Linked DNA regions of Homo sapiens. The protein of the gene in region 1 interacts with the protein of each later gene in a pairwise test. Each region holds a gene or a part of one and is shown on either strand. Other genes may lie near its edges.

Evidence for each region.
Region 2: the proteins of KCNC4 (region 1) and BACE1 interact in binary tests that used the Homo sapiens proteins (3 or more experiments, as listed by UniProt).

Annotation. Positions count from the first base shown.
Region 1 is NC_000001.11:110,205,192-110,215,371, reverse strand, and holds the start of KCNC4 (voltage-gated potassium channel KCNC4), read right to left. Parts: upstream 5,059-10,180; 5' UTR 3,873-5,058; coding exon 3,195-3,872; intron 1-3,194. UniProt on the Homo sapiens protein: Voltage-gated potassium channel that opens in response to the voltage difference across the membrane, forming a potassium-selective channel through which potassium ions pass in accordance with their electrochemical gradient.
Region 2 is NC_000011.10:117,290,654-117,300,683, reverse strand, and holds part of BACE1 (beta-secretase 1 isoform A preproprotein), read left to right. Parts: intron 1-961; exon of another isoform or gene 962-1,036; intron 1,037-3,722; coding exon 3,723-3,811; intron 3,812-5,110; exon of another isoform or gene 5,111-5,136; coding exon of another isoform or gene 5,137-5,186; intron 5,187-5,336; coding exon 5,337-5,553; intron 5,554-6,675; coding exon 6,676-6,813; intron 6,814-7,495; coding exon 7,496-7,630; intron 7,631-8,513; exon of another isoform or gene 8,514-8,870; coding exon 8,871-8,972; exon of another isoform or gene 8,973-9,338; intron 9,339-9,634; coding exon 9,635-9,784; intron 9,785-10,024; coding exon 10,025-10,030. UniProt on the Homo sapiens protein: Responsible for the proteolytic processing of the amyloid precursor protein (APP).

The DNA.
Region 1 (10,180 bases):
AGTCTCCACGGTGAGCCTTCACTCTGCCCTGCCCCTCGTACCTGTTCCCAGCTCAGGCCACAGAAACGGAACCACAGCAGCAGCTGCCCATGGGCCCAGCACAGTGGAGCAGGGGTGAGCATCCCAGTCCAGGAGCCTGCCTGAGCGGAACAGCTCCTTGGGCCAGGCCTGTAGCTAGGCAACAGGCTCTCATAATCAGCTCAGTTCACTTTCCATTTGTATCGTTTTGCTCCTGTCATAACGCACTACTCAAATGACCAGGTTGCTGTGTGCGAAAGGACGCCTCAGGGCAGAGCACTGCTCCTCTCTCCCTCTTCGCCCACCACCCCACAGTGCTGCGGGCCCTTCCAGGGAGGAGGTAGCTGTGAGCGAGGGAAGGTAGCACATATACCGGGGGGAACAGGGCTGGGAAGGATGGGACAGTGTGACAAGCCAGGGGCAAATGGAGGGGGGAAAGTGCAGCCCCAGAACTCCCCGCATGGCATAGTACCCTCAGGCCTGGAGGGGTAATACAGTAAGTCTTCCTTCTGACGTCTCCATCTGCCCCTGGGTTTTCTGATGTCATCCACAGGAGGTACAGAACCTCAGAAGGACATTTCTCAGGCTACAGTAAGAAACAAGCTCTCTGCCTCAAAAACAGCCTAGTTCAGTGGAAAGAAGGTGTTGTAATCACAAGAGCAAGGGCTTGGGAGTCAGGGACTCTGGCTTTGATTCAAAGCCTGGCCACTATCTGGCTGTGTGATCTCAGGCAAGTTGTTTACCTTCTCACAGCCTCAATCTATTAAACGGGGATAATCACCGGGTTTTAAGTTTATTGGGAGGATTAGAGATTAATGTAAAGTATATACAGCAATGTATCTGTCTGGGGTGCTCAATAATGAGCAGTTATTCATTAATTTGTAAAAATTATGTATTCCCACTTGTGTGTCCCGGGAGCAGGTGAGGGTTGCCTTTGCCTGGGCTCCTGAGCAGGAGGCAAGTCCTCTTTTAGTGCATGTGTTGGCCAGAGCTCCATCCAGATATTCACATCAGGATGAACAACCAGAAGGCTGGAAACTAGGGGTGGTTTCCTGCCTCTGCTATTAGTTAAATGTCTTTGGCAAGAAACTTAATGTCTCTGAATCCTGGTTTTCTCAATGTTTAAATGGAAGAATTAACCTTGCTCCATCATAAACTTCAAGACCTCAACTGGAATGCCTGGGCTGATGTGATTCCATGTCAAAGGGGCAAAGCACCCTGGGTTCCTGGGAAGACTTCCAGGGGCAGGCCAGGCTCTGAGCTTACTCAAAGAGGCCCCCTGGCTTGGCCATTCAGCAGTGAGTTAGGAAGAAAATAAACTCAATGATATGTGGGGTGCCACCTGGAATTCCAGAGGGGAAGAAGAGCAGGTGAAAAGCCCCTAGAAGTCCCAGAATGCTCAGAAATAGGGCCTAGCTCCCCTAACCACCTCATCTCATCCCTGCTTCCCTGGTTTGTCCCCTTTCCCCATCTCTATCTCTATCTCTCCTCCCCGACCCCCAACTTTGAAAGAGTCTGAATGATGTGTGCCTGCCCTCTCTCCCCTAATGCAGACAGCCAAGTGCTAACACTAGCAAGGTTAGTGACCTACATGAGAAGTCTGTAGAACTCACAGCAGACCCAGGCCAGGGGCATCACTATGCCCTCACCTTCTTAGCCAGTCTCAGGGCTGCAAGGAAAGAAACCCAGACAGTTGCCTCTAGCTTTGTTGTCAGTCCTGAGAAAGATCCCTGCCTTCTCGTGGCTGCCTGCAGCCCCAGCCCGGTATGCCATGGCCCCTGAGACCTCTGCTCCTCCCTTCTCTTCCAGGCAGAAGATGCATCTGCCCTGGCCTGGCATTTATGCCAGCCTGGCTTTTCCCTGCAGGCCTGTTCCCCAATTCCCTACCCTGCCTTCTTCTATGACTAGGAAGGAGTCCAGCACAGGGGTGCTGGGAAAGGGAGGGTGCTCTGAGACTCATTAACATGACAATTTGGGATGCTGGAGGAACCAACCAGGTTCCACAGCAAGCAGCAGTCCCCAGACCCAACAAGTTACATTGCTCTTTCCTGTCTCCCAGACAGACTCCAGCCAGGCTTTAGGCTGCTGACCATGAGATCCGACACCAGCCCCCAGAGTTTTCTTTCTTTAAAGAATCTAAAGCCATCCTTCAGGGATTTTTTTTTTTTTTTTTTTTTTTTTTTAGCTGTCGAAGCATAATGGGGGAAGCACCTCCCCCGTTCTCCCCTTTCACCTAAAGGAGTTAGGGAAACTGGATTTACTTGGGGAGGAGGCGGTAGGTCTTGCCTAAATCAACCTGTGCTTCCCCCTTCCCTCATACACCCATTTCAAGCAGTAACCTGAACCAGGGCTTTCTGGAAAGACAGTTTGTGCTGCAGCAGAAAGAAAAGAAGCGGCAACAAAAATCTGGTATCATCACCAGGAAGCCTGTGGCTGGCCACTGGCCGTGGGAGCCTGCAGAGCCTAGAACGCTAGGCCCTTCGTGTTTAATTCTCCTCTCACCCCAGCTGAGGCCAGGACATCCCAGGTGTGCAGGAAGCCTCAGGGGCATGGTATCCTCCCTGGCAGAAAGAATGCCTTTCTTAAACCTGGAAAGGAGGCCGGATTGTGGTCTCAGCTTTGCCTCTTCTGAGCTTAAGATGCTGAAGCCTATATCCTCCTCTCTGAAGTGCATAGTTGTGAGCACACTGAGCTGCTGGGAGGATGTAAATGAGGTGGCACGGCATGGAAGCATCTAACAAAACCCACCCTAGTTTCCTTCCTCTCAACCCTGCCTGCCCCCATCAGAAGACCAAATTCCAGCTCTTCCAGGACCGTAGTCCTGTGTGGAGTGGAGGGCAGCTGAAGATAGGGCAGCCTGTGCAGACCAAAGAAGGGGGTGGAGGAGCTGAGCTGGGCACCCCACTCACTGGAGGGGATGCGGCAAAGCAGGCAGCTGGGACTGGGTCCAAGTAGTAAGTCAAGTGTGTGCAATCTCCTGATGGAGCGTGCAGGGGAGAGGGTGGGAGTGTGTAATTCCCCTGCGAGCCACGGAGGGGGGTTGAGAGGAAGGCGGGAACAATCTGCGGTGGTAAGGTAAGTCAGGCTCGGTCCCTGCTCCTCCCGGCCCCTACCCACCACCCACCACGGACCCCTTGCAGACCCAAGATGGGGAGACACGGGCTCCTGCCACTCACCCTAGCGGCCCGGGAGGAGTAGGGATCCTCGAAGAGCGCCCACATGCGGGGCTGCCAGCCGCGGCAGCCCCCAGACCCGGCGCCATGGCCCGCGCCTCCCTCGTGGGGGCCCAGTCGCTGCAGGGCCAGCTCCCGCTCATCGTCGCCGGCCTCGTCGCTGGGCCCCGCGCCGCTGCCGCCTCCGTCCGGGCTCTCGAAGATGTCGAGCGCCTCCTCGGCGTCGCGGTGCTGCCGGTAGGTCATCCAGCAGCAGGGTTCCACGTCGGTCTCGTCGATGCCCCAGAAGGTGAGCTCCTCTTCGAAGAGCGGCCCGCACACGTCCGCGGGGCAGTGCAGCTTGCCGGTGCGGTAGTAGTTGAGCACGTAGGCGAAGACGCCCGGGTGCCTGTCGAAGAAGAACTCGCAGCCCCCGCCGCCGCTGCTGCCGCTGCTACCCACACCGCCGCCATCGGTCTCGGGCCGGCCCCCGCCGTCGGGGTCGGCCAGCCAGGCGAGGCGGGTTCCCGGTAGGGTGCGCAGGGTGCTGCGGTAGGTCTCATGTCGCGTGCCGCCCACGTTGATGATGATCTTCTCCGACGCCTCGCCCTTGGCCATCTCCTCCTTCAGACATGTTTTGGACGGAGGCTTGTTCCCCGACTTGCGCCCGCGGTAGGAGGAGACACACACCGAGCTGATCATAAGAAGCGCTGCGGGGCTCCGGCTTGGGGCGGCCGCTGCCCTCCAAACACCCTTCCCGAGGAGGCAGCGTCAGACGGGGGAGGGGGAGGAGACGAAGAGGAGGCAGGAGGCGGTGGCGGCCCCCTCTGCGGCTTGGGCTTGCCCCTGCCTATCCCCCTAGGACGCGGAGCGGGAGGAGTTGGATTTCTCCGGTACACAGGTGGTTGGGGTTAGGGCAGGAAGCTCCGGAGAGAGGGAGGCGCAGAGAGGGAGGACCCGGGGAAGTAGAAGCAAGCACACACGCGGTCCCCCGCTACGACGGGACACACAAACGCTCTGGGCCGGGGACACGCCCCCGCCTTCACCCCGACCAAAGACGAGGAAGCGCACAGTCCACGCGCACCGCGAAGGTCCGGGGCGCTCGCGCTCACACGGGCCACCCTCCGGCTCCAAGACCGCACCAAGCCCCGGAATAGCCGGCTTCCCCGCAGCGGCGGCAGCGCAGCAGCAACAAGTCCTCCGAGCGGCTGCCGGGGCCAGGCCGACACTCTCACGGCAGCCGGAGCTCCGTGGGCCCGGGCTGCTTGCGGTCAACACGAGGCGGCGGCGGCGGCATGTGGCCTCTTCCCCCCATTCATAAATCCAGCGCCGGGCGAGGAAGGCAGGCGGGGCAGAGCAGAGAGCGGCGGCCGGGCGGGCGGGGGCTGCGCAGGGCGAGGCGGCAGCTGGAAAACAAGCGCGCCCGCAGGAGCGAGCCTCGGGTCCTGCGTCCGCGGCTGGGAGCTGCGCCGGACCGGGCGCAGCGCTGCGGGGGCCGCGCTGGGGCGGGGGTGCCTCAGACGGGGCGTCCTGCGCGGCGCCGAGCCTGGGGGGCGGGGCCGCTCTGGGGAGCCGGGCTCTGGGCACTGGCGAAGGTGTACCGGGGGCGGCGGCCGAGCGGCCAAGGACACCTGCAGGCTTCCCGGGCCGCGCGGAGAGGGAGCCTCAGCGCAACGCCCCGGCGCCTGGTTCCTGCGATCTGGCGGCGCTGGGAGCCACGCCATCTACGCGTCTGCCCATCTCCGGGCGGGGCGCCGGCCTTGGCTCGCGCGCGGCAGGGGGCGGGCGCGAGGTGGCATAGGGGAGGGGGCGCCTCGGCGCCGGTGGGCTGGGGCCCTAGGGGCTCATGGTCTCCCTCCGGCGCTGGCAGCGGCCGCCACGCCCCAGTGGCGCCTTTTCCTCCGGGGCCCCGCCTCGCCCAGACGCGCCCTTCGCGGGGCGGGGTGGGCGGGGCGCGGCGCAGCGCGGGGCCGATCCGACTCACTGCAGGCCCTGGCGACCGAGCGCAGTCTTCCTCCCCGGAGCCGAGCCCCAACCAAGCGCGTCACCTCCTCGCCGCCAGTGCCCAGCCCAGCGCGCCGCCCCTGCGCGCTTCCGCCGGCAACCCCTCCCGCCCCCCTCAGCCCTGCTCCGCGCCTCCCCCGGGCCCGCAGCTCCTCCCACCGCAGCCCGCTGACACCGAAGCGCTCTCGACCCCTGACCTCTAACCTCCGCCCGGCTCTTCTTGCTTCGTCCCTCGCCCCCTCCCCGCCAAGCTGGTCGCACTGTTGCCGTTTCACTGCGGCTGACGGAAGGCCAAGGAAGAAAGAGGGTAGAGACGCTGTCGCGAGGATCAGGCTGCCCTCTCCTTTCCCAGGGACCGTGTTGGGGCCTTCTGACCACCCCGCCCCGCATCCTGCGCCTCGGAGGCCCAACGTAGCCCAAGACACCCATGGTCTTGATGCTCTCCGCCTCTGTCCCAGCCACCAAAGTCCCCGCGATGGAATGGAGGACGGGGTGGCCTTGGGCAGAGAAGCGCTTCTTGTGCCGGATGGAAGGAAACCGTAGCTCTGGCTGTGTTCATCGCGAAATGTTTTATGGATGTGGAGTGGGTGGGTGGCCCTGAAAAGTCATTAGTTAAAGCCTTTGCTCGTCATTGCTCTGGGGTCCACATAGGAAATGCCCGTGTCCTGCCTCATGACCCCTTCCTGTTTCTACTCTTATTCTACCCATTACAATTTGACTTTGCCTGTGTATATGTCTCCTCTCCCCTCCCTAACCCTGAGCTCCTGCAGGCGGCATTGTGCTTTTTCATCTTGATAGCTCCCACAGTGCCTGCCTCTGAGAACCTGTTTGCTAAGTGATTGAGAAGCTGCCATACCCAAAACGTAGGCACCAACAGGACTTTACTGGCCCTATCCCAAGAGCAATTTCCAGATTCATTTGTTTTTGTTAAGTCCAGAACCTATTTTACATCTTCATATTAATCCCCATTGGGTTTTTTTTTCTTTTTTACAGCTTCAGGCAGCCTCCATGCCTGTCTGGATGATGTAAAGAGATCTTGAGGCAGAAATGAAAGGTGAATGACACACCTGCCCTGGACACCTGTGCACCTTCCCAGTTCCAGATCAGGCAGTACCTAGCTCAACTGAGAAAAACAAGACAAGGGCCTATGTGTGTCTCAGGAAAGGTTAAAAGCTCAGTGCCAATGCAAGGGATTTTTACAAGCAAAAGTCTCATTATTAATGAGGCCAGAAAACCAAAATGACAATGATCTTTGATGATCTGTACTGACACGCAGGGGAGGTGAGTTAATCAGAAACACACATTTACTGGCACCCCCTTTGTGCCCAGTCCCTGCTCCTCGAAACTGATGTTTGTATTTCAGAGTTTAGCTGTCTTTGAGTTTGCTGCAGTGAAAAGAAATATCCCAAGTGTGACTGGGAAGAGAAGACCCGGGACAGGCCAGAAACTGGAGTGAGGAAGAAAGAACCACAGAATATTAATGTAATGAATAACTTTCAAGTCCTATCTGGTCCGTGTCCTGGCAAAGTCCCTTGGGGTCTCTCCCCTGCTTTCCGTTCATCAGGATGACTGAGCTCAGTAATTGTAACAAAGGGAGTGTAGTAGGCAAGGGGACAAAACCCATAGTATCCCACCCCTGATTGACTTATTAACTCAATGAACACTTATTGAATACCTACGATATGCCAGAAGCAGTTCCGGGTACTGGAAATACATCAGTGAATAAAACAGCCACTCATCCTAGTAAATCTGCCCAACTGGTGCTTCCACTCTGCGGTGCTTGTGGATAGTGATGAGCACCTGGGGAGATGGGTAAAGGGAGAAAGCTGCCAGGGAAAAAGGAGGCCAAGAGGGAAGGGAGGAAGATCAGAAAGTTGGGACACAGGCATAGGAACCTAGGAAGAGCTGACAAAAACAGAGGGCCCAGCCTGAGAGAGGCAGCTGGGTAAAGGTGCATGGGGCCAGGACTCCCAGCTCTGTGCACTGACCAGCTCGGGAGAGGGGAGCTCAGCCTCAGTCCTGAGGCCTCCAGAGAATGCCTCACCCTTGCTGAAGGTTTATTCTAGAACTCTGGGCTCACCTGTTACGTGTACCTCTCTGAGGGAGTCGATATGCTGCAGTTAGCACTATGGGACTTGTCCCCATCATTTCTTTGTGTGAGGTCTTGGTGTTCCCTCAAAACACAGAGCCGGGGAAGGATAGGAGAGCCCCCTGCCCAGGCTACTGTGACACAGCCTACCATGGATGTGAGGGTGCTGCCCTCTGGTGGTGCTAGAACATCCTGGCTCCAGACCTCGCCCTGAGCTCTGGGGGCTGTGATGTGGGCAGATGGGGTGGCAGCTGATTCTGGGCTTCCTGTTGATTCCAGGACCTCAGGTACATCTTCTAGCCTAACTCTGCCATTGGGACTCTGCCTACTCCCTCCCTTCTTCATTCCTCCAAGACCTTGATACCTGACAGGCTTAAGCAAGACCACAAAGCAGCCACTATTGGAAATTCCTAGTTCCCCAAGCTTCTTTCCCTCATTTTCACCTTTTCTCTTTTGTCCTCTCCTTAGTGCCCTGGCTTCTTCAGGCTGTCAGGGAAGAGCACCTGTCTGAAAGCCAGTTCACAGAAGGTGTCAGCCACAGCGGGTTTCCCTCATCAGGGGTGAGGGTGTGGTGAAAGAATAGGAAGAGAGGGCCATGGGAGATTCTAAAGGGGCACCGATGGAGGCTGTCAAGCACCTGCACCCTTTCCAGGCCCCCCCTCCACCCGCATAATAAGGTCCTCACCCTCTGAGTGCCGACGCTGACCCTGTCCGTAGGAAGCTGAAAGCCTGAAATCAAAGCCGTTTACCCTTCCCCTTTCCCCACTGGGAGCTTTGTATGGGCTCAGCCTCTTTAGGATGACTGGAGCCATCCAATCTCCTCTCCATCTTCCTTCTTTGAAACCTGTTTGTGGTGAGGGGCTCCAGGCCAAGGCAAGGTTCTATCCATTGGTGCTCACACTTTCCCTTTTTGGTATTCTAGCTCCTGCCAGGGACTGACCCTCCTTCAGGTCCAGGCCAAGGAGCCAGCATCCTTTCCCAGCATGCCTCACTCTCTCCCAGCCTGGAAAATTGAATTGCTTTATCAGACTCATTAGAGGGTGATAGGGCCTCCCCGCTCATGGGGGAACAAGAGAAGGGAAGGCAAGAGCAGGCTGGCAGCCTCCTGTCTGCGTCTCAGCTCACTTCATCCTGCCTCCCCCAACCCCAAGCAGCCTGCAGAGACTTGCAGGCTCCAAATCAAATGTGAGAGCCTTCTTTGGGGGGAGGGGGGTTGGTGGGGGAGGGGCTCTGGGGAGAACCTAGCCCTAGTAATTCAGGTCTTGTGAAGATCAGTAGAATGGCTCTGCCTCAGGACTGAAAGCAGGGTTGGGTTGCTGTGGTAATCCCAGTGAAGTTGTATCTGGGGCTCAAAGGTGGCCTTTGAAGGCCCAGCTCTTAAAGAGAAGAGATCAGAAGCTCGGGCCTGGGCAGGGCTCAGGGCCTCATACACTATGGACCTGGAGTCATAGGGTTGGAGGGGACCTGAGTGTTAGCTCATGGACACCTTCCCCCCGCTTAGGGATGTCAGGCCTAAGCAGCAGCAGCGAACTCTGAGAGACGGAGCTAGGGCTGGTGTTGGGCCAAGGACAGAGAACGATACGGGGGCCACCAGCTGAGTGGACCCTAGAGGCCTCCTTGTTTAAGGCTCCTGGGCTGGGAACTCAGCCTGCATCCAGACAGCACACTCCCGCCACCGCGCCTGCCACATGCACGCTAGCCCAGGGTCCGGCTGGCAAGACCTCTTGACACTTAGCATTTCTCCATCTAGAAAAGTAGAGATTGCTCCCACCTGGGCTAAGTTCCAGGAAAAACTGGTTCATTCCATTAGAGGAGTTAATTAGTCCTGATGGGCCCAGTCCCCTCCAGCAATATCCTGGGGAAAGGGGAAGCAGGTGTCTGGAGAGACAGGCCAAACTCAGGTTCCTCTTGGGTGCTCCTGAAGTCCAGGGATTCTTCCCTGCTTGGGTCAGCCCTGGGCAGAATGGAGGGACCCAGAACCCAGGCAGCTCAGACCCAGGGACAGAGAGCAGATCCCCACTGAGTCTTTATGCTCTGCAGCCAGGACTGTGCCTGGCATGGATCAATCTTTGTAAGGGTTTGTGGTTGAATGACAGGCATAGTCTTCTCCCATCTCAAGGTTTCTTCCCACCTAAGATGATGTAATTAAAGAATGCAGCAGCGTGCCTGGCACCAGTGAGTGTGCCAGGAAGGGAGATGCCCAAGTCAGATTGTGACTGCCTCTGCGAGCCAGGGACTCTTGCCTGGTCCTTTGTATATTCCCAGTGCTCAGCACAATCCCAGGCACTCAAAATACCTGATTCATGCTTGCTTGATGCATGGAATTAATGAGGCGGGGGGTGGCGGGGGAGGAGTCCTCCCTGTCAGTTTCTTGCTGTGTGGCAGAGAGTGCACTAGATTGGGAGTCAAGAAACCCAGGCATTGGCCCCGATCTTCCCCTTGCTTGGTTGTGGGAAGTCTGGTCTTTTCCTCTTTGGGCCTCCGTTTCCCCCATTGTTGTACAAGGAGGTTTGACCAGATAATCACTAAGGTTCATATTCTGGTTACTATTGTTATGAAACAAATTACCCCTAGTATGTAGTGATATAAACCCAACAGCCATTTTATTTTGTTTATTATTTTATGGGTCAGGAAATAAGGAAGGGCTCAGTTGAACAGTTCTTGCTTAGGGTCTCTTATGCAGCTACAATCAGATGTCAGCGGGCTGCAAACATCTGAAGCTCAGCTGGGCTAAACGTTCAGTATGCTGTGTTCATGTGGCTGGCAGTTGACACTGGCTGTTGGCTGGAAGCTCAGCTGAAGCTGTCAACCTAAGCATCTGCAAACATATCGCCTCCCTAGCATGGCAGTCTCAGGGTGGTTGGCTGTCTTACATGGCAGCTGGCTGCCTCTAGAATGAGTATCCCTAGAACACCAG
Region 2 (10,030 bases), on another chromosome or scaffold:
CAGCCGCAGGCAGGTTGGTGTGGTTGGCTGTGGGAGATGAGGGCAGTCTCATCCCCTGGCCCAGTTCAGTGACCCGAGAGGGGAACCCAGCTGCTGGGGTTCGGCGGCTGCAGCCCCTCCACCGCTGCCTCTGCCCAGGCCGCCCTGAACTGCCCTGTTTCATAATGAGCAAGCAGTGCCTCAGCCTTGCCTCGGGCCCGTCCTGTTAAGAGCCCCCCCCATCCCCCCGCTTGGAATGGAGCAGGGGTGGGGAAAAGGCTGCCGGGACTGGCCAGGGCTCCCATTCGAAGCGCTGAAGGACAGGACCAGAATTACTTCTCTCGGGCGGGAGCACACCGCAGAGGGCAGACGGGTCGACATTTGCTCGGGAGAGAAGCCCAACTGTTTATTCTGGTTTTCTTTTGTGTGTGTGTGTAAGGTGGAGAGGGGAGGCAGAGAGCAGTGGGGACCTGAAATCGTAGTATTGGGGTGGGTGAGAGGGATGGGAGTGGAGGGGGACGTTCCTTCCTGGGCTCGGCCTGGCCCCCTTTGGGGTGGCAGGGGGAAAGGCTGGGGCTGGAAGGACAGCAAGAGCGCCCAGGGCCTCAGGGCTGGGGTGGGAGTACCCTGCAGAGAGCTCCCTCCTGCCTCGCAGGAGAGGAAGGGGGAGGCAGGGAGGGGCAGGGACAGCAGGAGCCCCCAGGTCAAAGCTCCACTCCAGTGTAAAGCAGTAGCCATATTTGCTTAGAACTTGCCGGATGTTCCCTCCCTTGCACAGGCCACAGAGACTTGTTGTGGAGGAGATCCTCTTTCTTTGGGGTCCAGTGATAGCAGGGAGCCCTGTAATATGAGGCCAGCCCCCCATGCTGGGAGCTGAGTCCTGAGAATGGGGAAGAGGGTTCGTGGGGAGAGGGTGGGTGAAGAAGCCTTCTTAATCATTAACCTGGTTGATTTCATCTGAACTGCTGAGCCTCCCAGCTCTATTGATTTTCTCTGAAAGCACAGCATCTGGAGCTGGTGGCTGCCCAGAGACCGGGGAGAGAGACCACGGGTAGAGGTAGGGGAAGAGGGGCAGGGAGGGGAATGGAAACCAGGCCAGGAGTGGGGGGCTGGGAAGGAGGGAGGAGACAAGGTCTGAGGGCCGGGAGATTGTCAGAGGAGTCTTTGGGGATGTGAGGAGGCCAGGAGGTCTAAGCAGGCACTGGGGGAGGGCACAGTCAGCACAGCCACAGAGGCACCACGGAGAGCAGGAAGGAGCCAGAGAGGATCTGGCAGAGAGGACGAAACTGAAGTCCAGAGAAGCACAGTGATCTGCTCAAGGTGACAGGGTCAGGGCCTGCACCAAAACTGAGGTCAGTTGATTTCACTGGACTGAGGAGAGAAGATACAGAAATGAAGGCCCCTGGGGCAGAGGAGAACCTGAGGTGATGGAAAGTCGGCAAGAGGCGAGATGCAACTTACAAATTACCATTTTTCTGAGGGTGGGGCCTTTCCTTTTTTTGCCTGTGAGGATATAGTAGACTTTCAAAAAATGGCTCTGGTCTGACTGAAGGTGGGGTCAGGCCATCAAAGGAGGAAGAAAGGGCCAAGGAGAAGTGATGCTAGAGGCCGGGCATGGTAGCTCACGCCTCAGCACTTTGGGAGGCCGAGGCAGGTGGATCACCTGAGGTCAGGAGTTCGAGACCAGCCTGGCCAACGTGGTGAAACCTCGTCTCTACTAAAAATACAAAAATTAGCCCTGCGTGGTAGCGCACACTTGTAATCCCAGCTACTCAGGAGACTGAGACAGGAGAATCACTTGAACCCAGGAGGCGGAGATGGCAGTGAGCCGAGATCGCGCCATTGCACTCCAGCCTGGGTAACAAGAGCGAAACTCCATCTCAAAAAAAAGAAGTGATGCTAGAAAGAGCTGGACAGAAGGGAACACCAAGACACCTGTCCATCTTCACTTAGCCAAATCCAGGGCCCTGACAAGATGGGTTTTCACCAGGACATTTTATGGGGCTCCTGGCTCCCCACTATTTCTGACAGTAGGATTCCTAGGTCTGTGTCACCTGTGAGACAGAAGGGGAGCCACATTCTGGTGGCAGGGACAGAACCACACGCATGGACACTGATGTGCCATCCTGGTCCCCACAGGTCCCCTGACCAGTACAGCTCCTAGAATAGGTCTTCTCTGAGCTGGAGGGGATAAGCCAGACTGCTTCCTGGGAGAATTGAAAAGGAGCAGGGGGCCCTGAAGACAGAATCAGTCAGGTACACAGTGAGCAGGGGTGATGTGACGGTAGAGAGACATGGGAACAGAGACAGCACACACACCACATAGCTCTGAGATGACGCACAAAATGTTATGACTCCATAGACTGAAGCAGACACAGCGTTTCTTTTCTTTTCTTTTTTTTTTTGAGACGGAGTGTTGCTCTCGTCCAGGCCGGAGTGCAGTGGTGTAATTTCGGCTCACTGCAACCTCCGCCTCCTGGGTTCAAGTGATTCTCCTGCCTCAGCCTCCCAAGTAGCTGGGATTATAGGCGTGCGTCACCACACCCGGCTAATCTTTGTATTTTTAGTAGAGATGGGATTTTACTACATTCACCAGGCTGGTCTTGAACTCCTGACCTCAAGTGATCCACCCGCCTTAGCCTCTCAAAGTGTTGGGATTACAGTTGTGAGCCACTGTGCTGGCCTCAGACACAGCATTTCTAAGGCCATGTTGAGGGTGCCAAAGGAAACCAAGATATTTTACCCCAGAATATACTACTTTGACGTATTTTGAGTCGGCTGTCAGAGGGCCAGCACACAGAAGTGGCCCTGCAAATCTGGCTTTTGAGGGAGATTTGCATCTGCAGAGAATCTGCATTGATGCAACCTGGCTTTCTCTGAGGCCCTCCCTGGTCCAAATCTAGGAAAGATTAACTGAAAGTCTGACATGTTTAAAGGTCTGAAAGACACATACATCACCTGTTTTCTCTGAGGGGTGTTACCTATGAGGTTTCATTCATATAAAAAGACCACTTTTACTGGCCTGGCCTCCGTTTATCCCTCCCATAACTATTTTTGCCAAAGTCCAAGTCCCTTTTTTTTTTGTTGTTGAGACAGGGTCTCTGTCGCCCAGGCTGGAGTGCAGTGGCATGGTCTCAGTTCACTGCAACCTCCACCTCCCAGGGTCAAGTGAGTCTCATGCCTCAGCCTCCTGAGTAGCTGGGACTACAGGCATGTGCCACCATGTCCAGCTAATTTTTGTATTTTTAGTAGAGACAGAGTTTCGTCCTGTTGGCCAGGCTGGTCTCAAACTCCTCACCTCAGGTGATCCACCTGCCTCAGCCTCCCATAGTGCTGGGATTACAGGGGTAAGCCACTGCACCTTGCCCAAGCTCCCATTCTTTCTGTAACCTCAAGATGGTATAAAATCATCAACCATCTGGCTATCTCTTTGACTTCCTATATTTTTTTGACTCCCTTGCATATTAGTTCTTCTACTAATCTGCCTTTTTTCAGTTGGTTTTTCAGCAGACCTGCAGAGGGCACAGGGGAAGTGTTCCTTTGGCCCCTGCAGCACCACAGGACCCCAGGTCCTGTCTGTGGTCGTGGTGGTAACGGGTGCCAGCCTGGACCAGTCCTGCATCGTGGAGCTTCACTCTGGACATTCTAAGGGGCAGACTGTGGCTGGGGCGTGAGGGATAATAAAGGTGGTGTGACCGAAGCCTCCTGTCTATACTGTCTTTTCTCTCCCCTTTCTCTGACAGCTCAACATCCTGGTGGATACAGGCAGCAGTAACTTTGCAGTGGGTGCTGCCCCCCACCCCTTCCTGCATCGCTACTACCAGAGGCAGCTGTGAGTCCTGGGGAGAGCCCGGGGGAAGTACCTTTTCCAAGGATCCAGGGCTAAGAAGGGTCAGGGGAGGGGTACAGAGAGAAAGAGTTGATCCTCAGATTTTCTTCTTGCCAGGGAAGGGGAAGGGCGAAAAAAAGACAGTGACCAGGAGAGACAGGGTGAAGTGGGTGGTGAGAGGAGCTATACCATGGGAAAGGGTGAATTGAGAGGTAGCCAGGAAGTGCTTCAGTGCTGAGACAGGGCAGCCTCCTGTGGGAGGGAAAGGAAGAAGAGCCCATAGCTCACAGAACAATCTTAGGGGGCCCATTTTCTCTGCCTGAATGGGGAGACGAAAACCCCACATCCCCTCGGTGTCTCTCAGTTCTCTAACACCAGCTAAGTCTAAGCTGAACAGGCCTCAGTGACGGCTCCCCTTGCTGTGTTCTTACCCAGGGGCCACTCTAGGTGGCTTTGCATAGTCCAAGGACATGAAGGAAAGGGTCTTTCATAAACCCCTCTGCCTAGACCAGTATCAGAACTGAAAGCTGAAATATCTCCTCCATGCACCACCCAGGGTGCCACCAGTTGGATTCAGCTTACTGGTGAAAGGGGGGTTGAAGAGGACTGGTGAAAGTGGGGGACTGGTGAAAGGGGGGTTGAAGTGGGCTTTAAGATAAGAGGCAGTGAGGGGTAATCTGGAAGCCCCCTTAGCATAAAAGCAGGAAGAAGAAGGGATGAGAGGACACCAATATCTGAGACATCAGTGTGTGCAAACGTGAGTAGAGGCTTAAATCCTATCCTTGGACTTGTAGGCAGCTGCAAAACGCACCTTCCCTGTTTCCTCTAATGTCCCAATCTAAAAGAAGCAGTCAGGGAGGAGGGTGCAGGTAGGATCGATGAAAGGGCATTCACTCCAGTTCCTCGTTCCAGTTCCATCACTGCCCCCACCACACACAGAAGCCCTGGTTAGTGGTGTGATTAAACACAGGTGGGGCTGCCACATGTTGAGCACGTTTCACAGAAGTGGTGTGTAATACCAACCTGCTTTTCTGAGATGCTTGAACAAACCCCTTCTCTAGAACTTGCTGTAGAGGTTCCACATTCACCCTGCCTGGCACTTTCTCTACCACTCGGATGGTACCACTAGGTTCCAAGGCAGTAAGAGAGTCAATGGTTCCTTTTCTCGGGGAGCTTGACGGAGCCAGAGGGCGGAAGAGATGCCCACTAGCTGTCCCTGCAGCAGCAGCAGCAGCAGGCACAATGCACAAAGCCCAGGCTTGTTCTTCACAGGGCCTGAGCTCAAGATCTAGGAATATGAGCAATAGATAGGAGAGCAAGCCTCACCAATGGTTCCCTTCATCTATCTGCAAGCCCACTTTACACTCTGTTCTGGGTGGTGAGTCTAGGGATGTTTTGCTGAGCAGCCTGAAAGCAGACTCTAGGATTCCCCTGAGATGAGATAAGGTGGTGTTTGGGAGTAAGTTTAACTTAGATCCTTATACCAGTTGTGGTTATGCATCCACAGATCTCTGCCTTCTTTCCACAGGTCCAGCACATACCGGGACCTCCGGAAGGGTGTGTATGTGCCCTACACCCAGGGCAAGTGGGAAGGGGAGCTGGGCACCGACCTGGTAAGCATCCCCCATGGCCCCAACGTCACTGTGCGTGCCAACATTGCTGCCATCACTGAATCAGACAAGTTCTTCATCAACGGCTCCAACTGGGAAGGCATCCTGGGGCTGGCCTATGCTGAGATTGCCAGGGTGAGAGGAACAGGGCTTGGCCCTACACACTCTATGCACACTGCACTATACAGAGAAGGAATTAGGAGAGAGAAGGGGAATTAGCAGAAGGAGGGCAACAATCAGTTTAAAGGATTATTTAACAGGGGTATAGGGTGGCAGTCTAAATTTTAGCCCTATAGAGGGCAGAACCATAGTGACAGAAGCTGTGATAGGTACAAGAATAGGCTGTGCTTTCTATGTACTCTTAAGATCTTTTTTTTTTTGAGACGGAGTTTCACTCTTGTTGCCCAAGCTGGAGTGCAATGGTGCAATCTTGGCTCACTGCAACCTCCACCTCCTCGGTTCAAGCGATTTTCCTGCCTCAGCCTCCCGAGTAGCTGGGATTATAGGCGCCCACCATGACGCCCGGCTAATTTTTTCTATTTTTAGTAGAAATGGGGTTTCATCATGTTAGCCAGGCTGGTCTCGAACTCCTGACCGCAGGTGATCCGCTCACCTCGGCCTTCCTAAGTGCTGGGATTACAGGCATGAACCACCGCGACCAGCCACTCTAAGATCTTTAATAAAGGCCCCCATAAATTTGAAGCAGGTTAGGCATAGGGGGATCAAAGATATATGAACCTGGCCAGGCGTGGTGGCTCACACCTGTAATCCCAGCACTTTGGGAGGCCAAGGCGAGCGGATGACCTGAGGTCAGAAGTTCAAGACCAGCCTGACCAACATGGTGAAACCCCATCTACCCCATCTCTACTGAAAACACAGAAATTAGCCGGGCATGTTGGCGCATGCCTATAATCCCAGCTACTCAGGAGGCTGAGGCACGAGAATCACTTGAACCCAGGAGGTGAAGGTTGCAGTGAGCCGAGATCGTAACATTGCACTCCAGCTTGGGCAACAAGAGCAAAACTCTGTCTCAAAAAAAAAAAAAAGATCTATGAATCTGTGAACCTATCAATACTGTCCTGTTTGCATTGCCAGGGCTCCTGCTAACCCTTCCTCTGCCAAATCTCAGTGCCTTAAGATGGTCTTTCCCAAGGAGCATCCCCCAAGCCTTCAAATTTGCCTTCCAGTTTAGACAGGAAGCTGGCCTCTGCCTTTAGGGCCGTATGAGGACTCACTCCTTGTCTCTTTCTGCCAAAGCCTGACGACTCCCTGGAGCCTTTCTTTGACTCTCTGGTAAAGCAGACCCACGTTCCCAACCTCTTCTCCCTGCAGCTTTGTGGTGCTGGCTTCCCCCTCAACCAGTCTGAAGTGCTGGCCTCTGTCGGAGGGAGCATGGTGAGTAGGTCCTCAGAGAGGGGAGGTCCTGGCATTGAGGGAGAGATGGGTGCCATCCTCTCCCCTTCCTGAAAGCTACACCACAGTTTTGGCTCCGATACTTAGAATCAGGAGGAACCTCTTTATATTCCCTACCCTTACTTTATTTTTCCATTCTTTTCTTTTTTGCGTTATTCCAGAAAGGAATCAAGGCACCTATGGTAAACTTGGAAAGGAAGGCAATTAGGAAAATTTCAAAGGAAATGAAAATAAGACCTGTTGAATTAAAATTATTCAGTTTGATGGTCAGAAGGCAGAGATATAAGAAGTTTGTCTATTTATTAATTAATTAGAACAATGGTGAATGGTTCTCCAATAAGCAGAGAAAATAAAACTTATAATATAAACAAATAACCATTCATTCAACATTTATTGTGGCAGTTTAGATTTAAATAACTTTATATCAAGGGCTGTATGATTCTGAAACAAATAATTAAAAATCCCGGAAAGTCTTTTCTCCTGAACACATTTAAGAAACTAGAAATCACTTTGGGTATGATTTGTTTAGAAGCAGGAAGATGAAAAGGGTAGCCTGTAGAAGACCTTGCCACCCCAAGAAATCACTGATCTTATTGCTTGGTCCTTGGGGGACTCACTCTCCTTCTGTGCCAGGACACGGGTACCTGCCTCTTTTTTTCCCTAGATCATTGGAGGTATCGACCACTCGCTGTACACAGGCAGTCTCTGGTATACACCCATCCGGCGGGAGTGGTATTATGAGGTGATCATTGTGCGGGTGGAGATCAATGGACAGGATCTGAAAATGGACTGCAAGGAGGTAAGAAAACCAAGGGAGAGCCTGGGAACATAAGGGGGTAGGCAGTACAATGTGAAGGAAGACTCTGGTTATCATGTTGGGAGGATGAGGCAGAGGTAATAGGACCTGCAGAAAGGGTTGGAAGTTGAGCCTAGAACAGTCAGGGGCTTAATGGTCACACAGCAGGATCTGCGGTTTGGGGCCTAGGGACTGGTAGTGAAAAAAAAAACATGGAACTAGTTCTGATGTCTGGACTCTAGTCACTGCCTTGCTTCGTAGCCTTGGGCAAGTCTTTTGTGAGACAGGGTGATAGAATGAAGAGTCTTGTCTTTGGAGTCAGGAAGACCCAGATCTGAATCTAGCTCTGATTTGTACTAGCTATGTACCCTTAGGCCAGTTACTATTCTGTGTCTCAGTTTCCTTATCTGCAAAACAGGTAAAAACAACTTTCTCAGAATATCAGAGATAATGTGTAAAGTGTTTATCTCTGTGGTTGGCAGTACTCAATAAAAGGTAACTAAATCATTTATGTCTTCCTTCCCTAGATTCTTATGTATGTTAAATTAGAATAGATATAAATGTACTAAGAAAAGTTAAAAGCGGCCGGGCGTGGCTGTAATCCCAGCACTCTGGGAGGCCAAGGCGGGGGCAGATCATTTGAGGTCAGAAATTCGAGACCAGCCTGGTCAACATGGTGAAACCCCATCTCTACTAAAAATAGCCAGGCGTGGTGGCAGGCACCTGTAGTCCCAGCTACTTGGGAGGCTGAGGCAAAAGAATGGTTTGAATCCAGGAGGCAGAGGTTAGAGTGAGCCGAGATCACGCCACTGTACTCCAGCCTGGGTGACAGAGCTAATACTCCATCTCAAAAAAAAAAAAAAAAAAAAAAAAAAGAAAAGAAAAGTTAAAAGCACTAAACAAGGTATTTTTATTTTCAAGTTTGGAGACTACCTGCCCACCCAAGATTAACAAGAATAAACATTTACCAAGTGCCTTCTCTCTGCTGGGCACGATTCTAAGTGCTTTACATTGCTGATTTATTTAATCCTTACAATAACCCTTTGAGGTAGGTGCTATTTTTATCCTCACTTTAGAGATGAAGGAACTGAGGCACAGAGGTTAACTTGTCCAAGCAGGTACACTTAGGAGGTGCCAAAGCCAAGATGCCAACCCAGCTGGGGCCCCAGCAGTAACCCCCTACTGCCCAGAGCCCAGCATCAAAAACCTTTTGACTCTTTTAACTCTCTCTTTTCCCTCTTAGTACAACTATGACAAGAGCATTGTGGACAGTGGCACCACCAACCTTCGTTTGCCCAAGAAAGTGTTTGAAGCTGCAGTCAAATCCATCAAGGCAGCCTCCTCCGTGAGTGGACTAAGGATGGGGGTAAAAGAGATGGTACAGTGTCAGAGGGAGGCGGTGAGAGTCACATTCTTCAGCAACAGCCAAGATGTCTGCACTTAGACCCTTCTACTCAGAGCTCTTAAAACACTCTTCCCCTAGCCAGGCGTGGTGGCTCACGCCTGTAATCCCAGCACTTTGGGAGGCCAAGGTGGGCAGATCACTAGGTCAGGAGTTCAAGACCAGCCTGACCAACAGGGTGAAATCCCATCTCTACTAAAAGTACAAAAATTAGCTGGGTGTGGTGGCGCACGCCTGTAATCCTAGCTACTCAGGGGGCTGAGACAGGAGAATCACTTTAACTCAGGACGGTGGAGGTTGCGGTGAGCCATGATTGCGCCACTGCACTCCAGCCTGGGCAACAGAGTGAGACACTGTTTCAAAAAAAAAAAAAAAACTCTTCCCCTTTATGGCTGTCACTTTGCTCATCACACAATCCCCCGGTACAAAAGTTTGACATCACACTCCCTCTCTCTTCCTGTAATCCTCTGGTTGGTTTACCCCTCCCCACTTTAGATATTTCACTGGAAAAGCAAATGAAGGGCCCAGTTAATGTATCTGAACATGGGAGGGGCGAGATGATAAAGAGGCTTTTCCTCATTGTTATCCCCTTCTTGCCAACACAGACGGAGAAGTTCCCTGATGGTTTCTGGCTAGGAGAGCAGCTGGTGTGCTGGCAAGCAGGCACCACCCCTTGGAACATTTTCCCAGTCATCTCACTCTACCTAATGGGTGAGGTTACCAACCAGTCCTTCCGCATCACCATCCTTCCGCAGGTATGTCCCAGCCTGAGTCAGGGGGATCTCTCTTAAAAGTACACACTGGGAGACAGTGAGCAGGTATGGCTTGCCAGAACTTGGAAGACAAAACAGATGAGTAGTGTCCAGCAGTAAAGGGGTCTCAGAAAACCCGTTAGAGCTCAGGGATGGTAAAGGGAAGGGCATAGATGCCTACAAGGCAGAGATGGGGTGAAGGAGAGTGAGGAAGACACTCACCCTGTGATTGCTTACCCCTAGCAATAC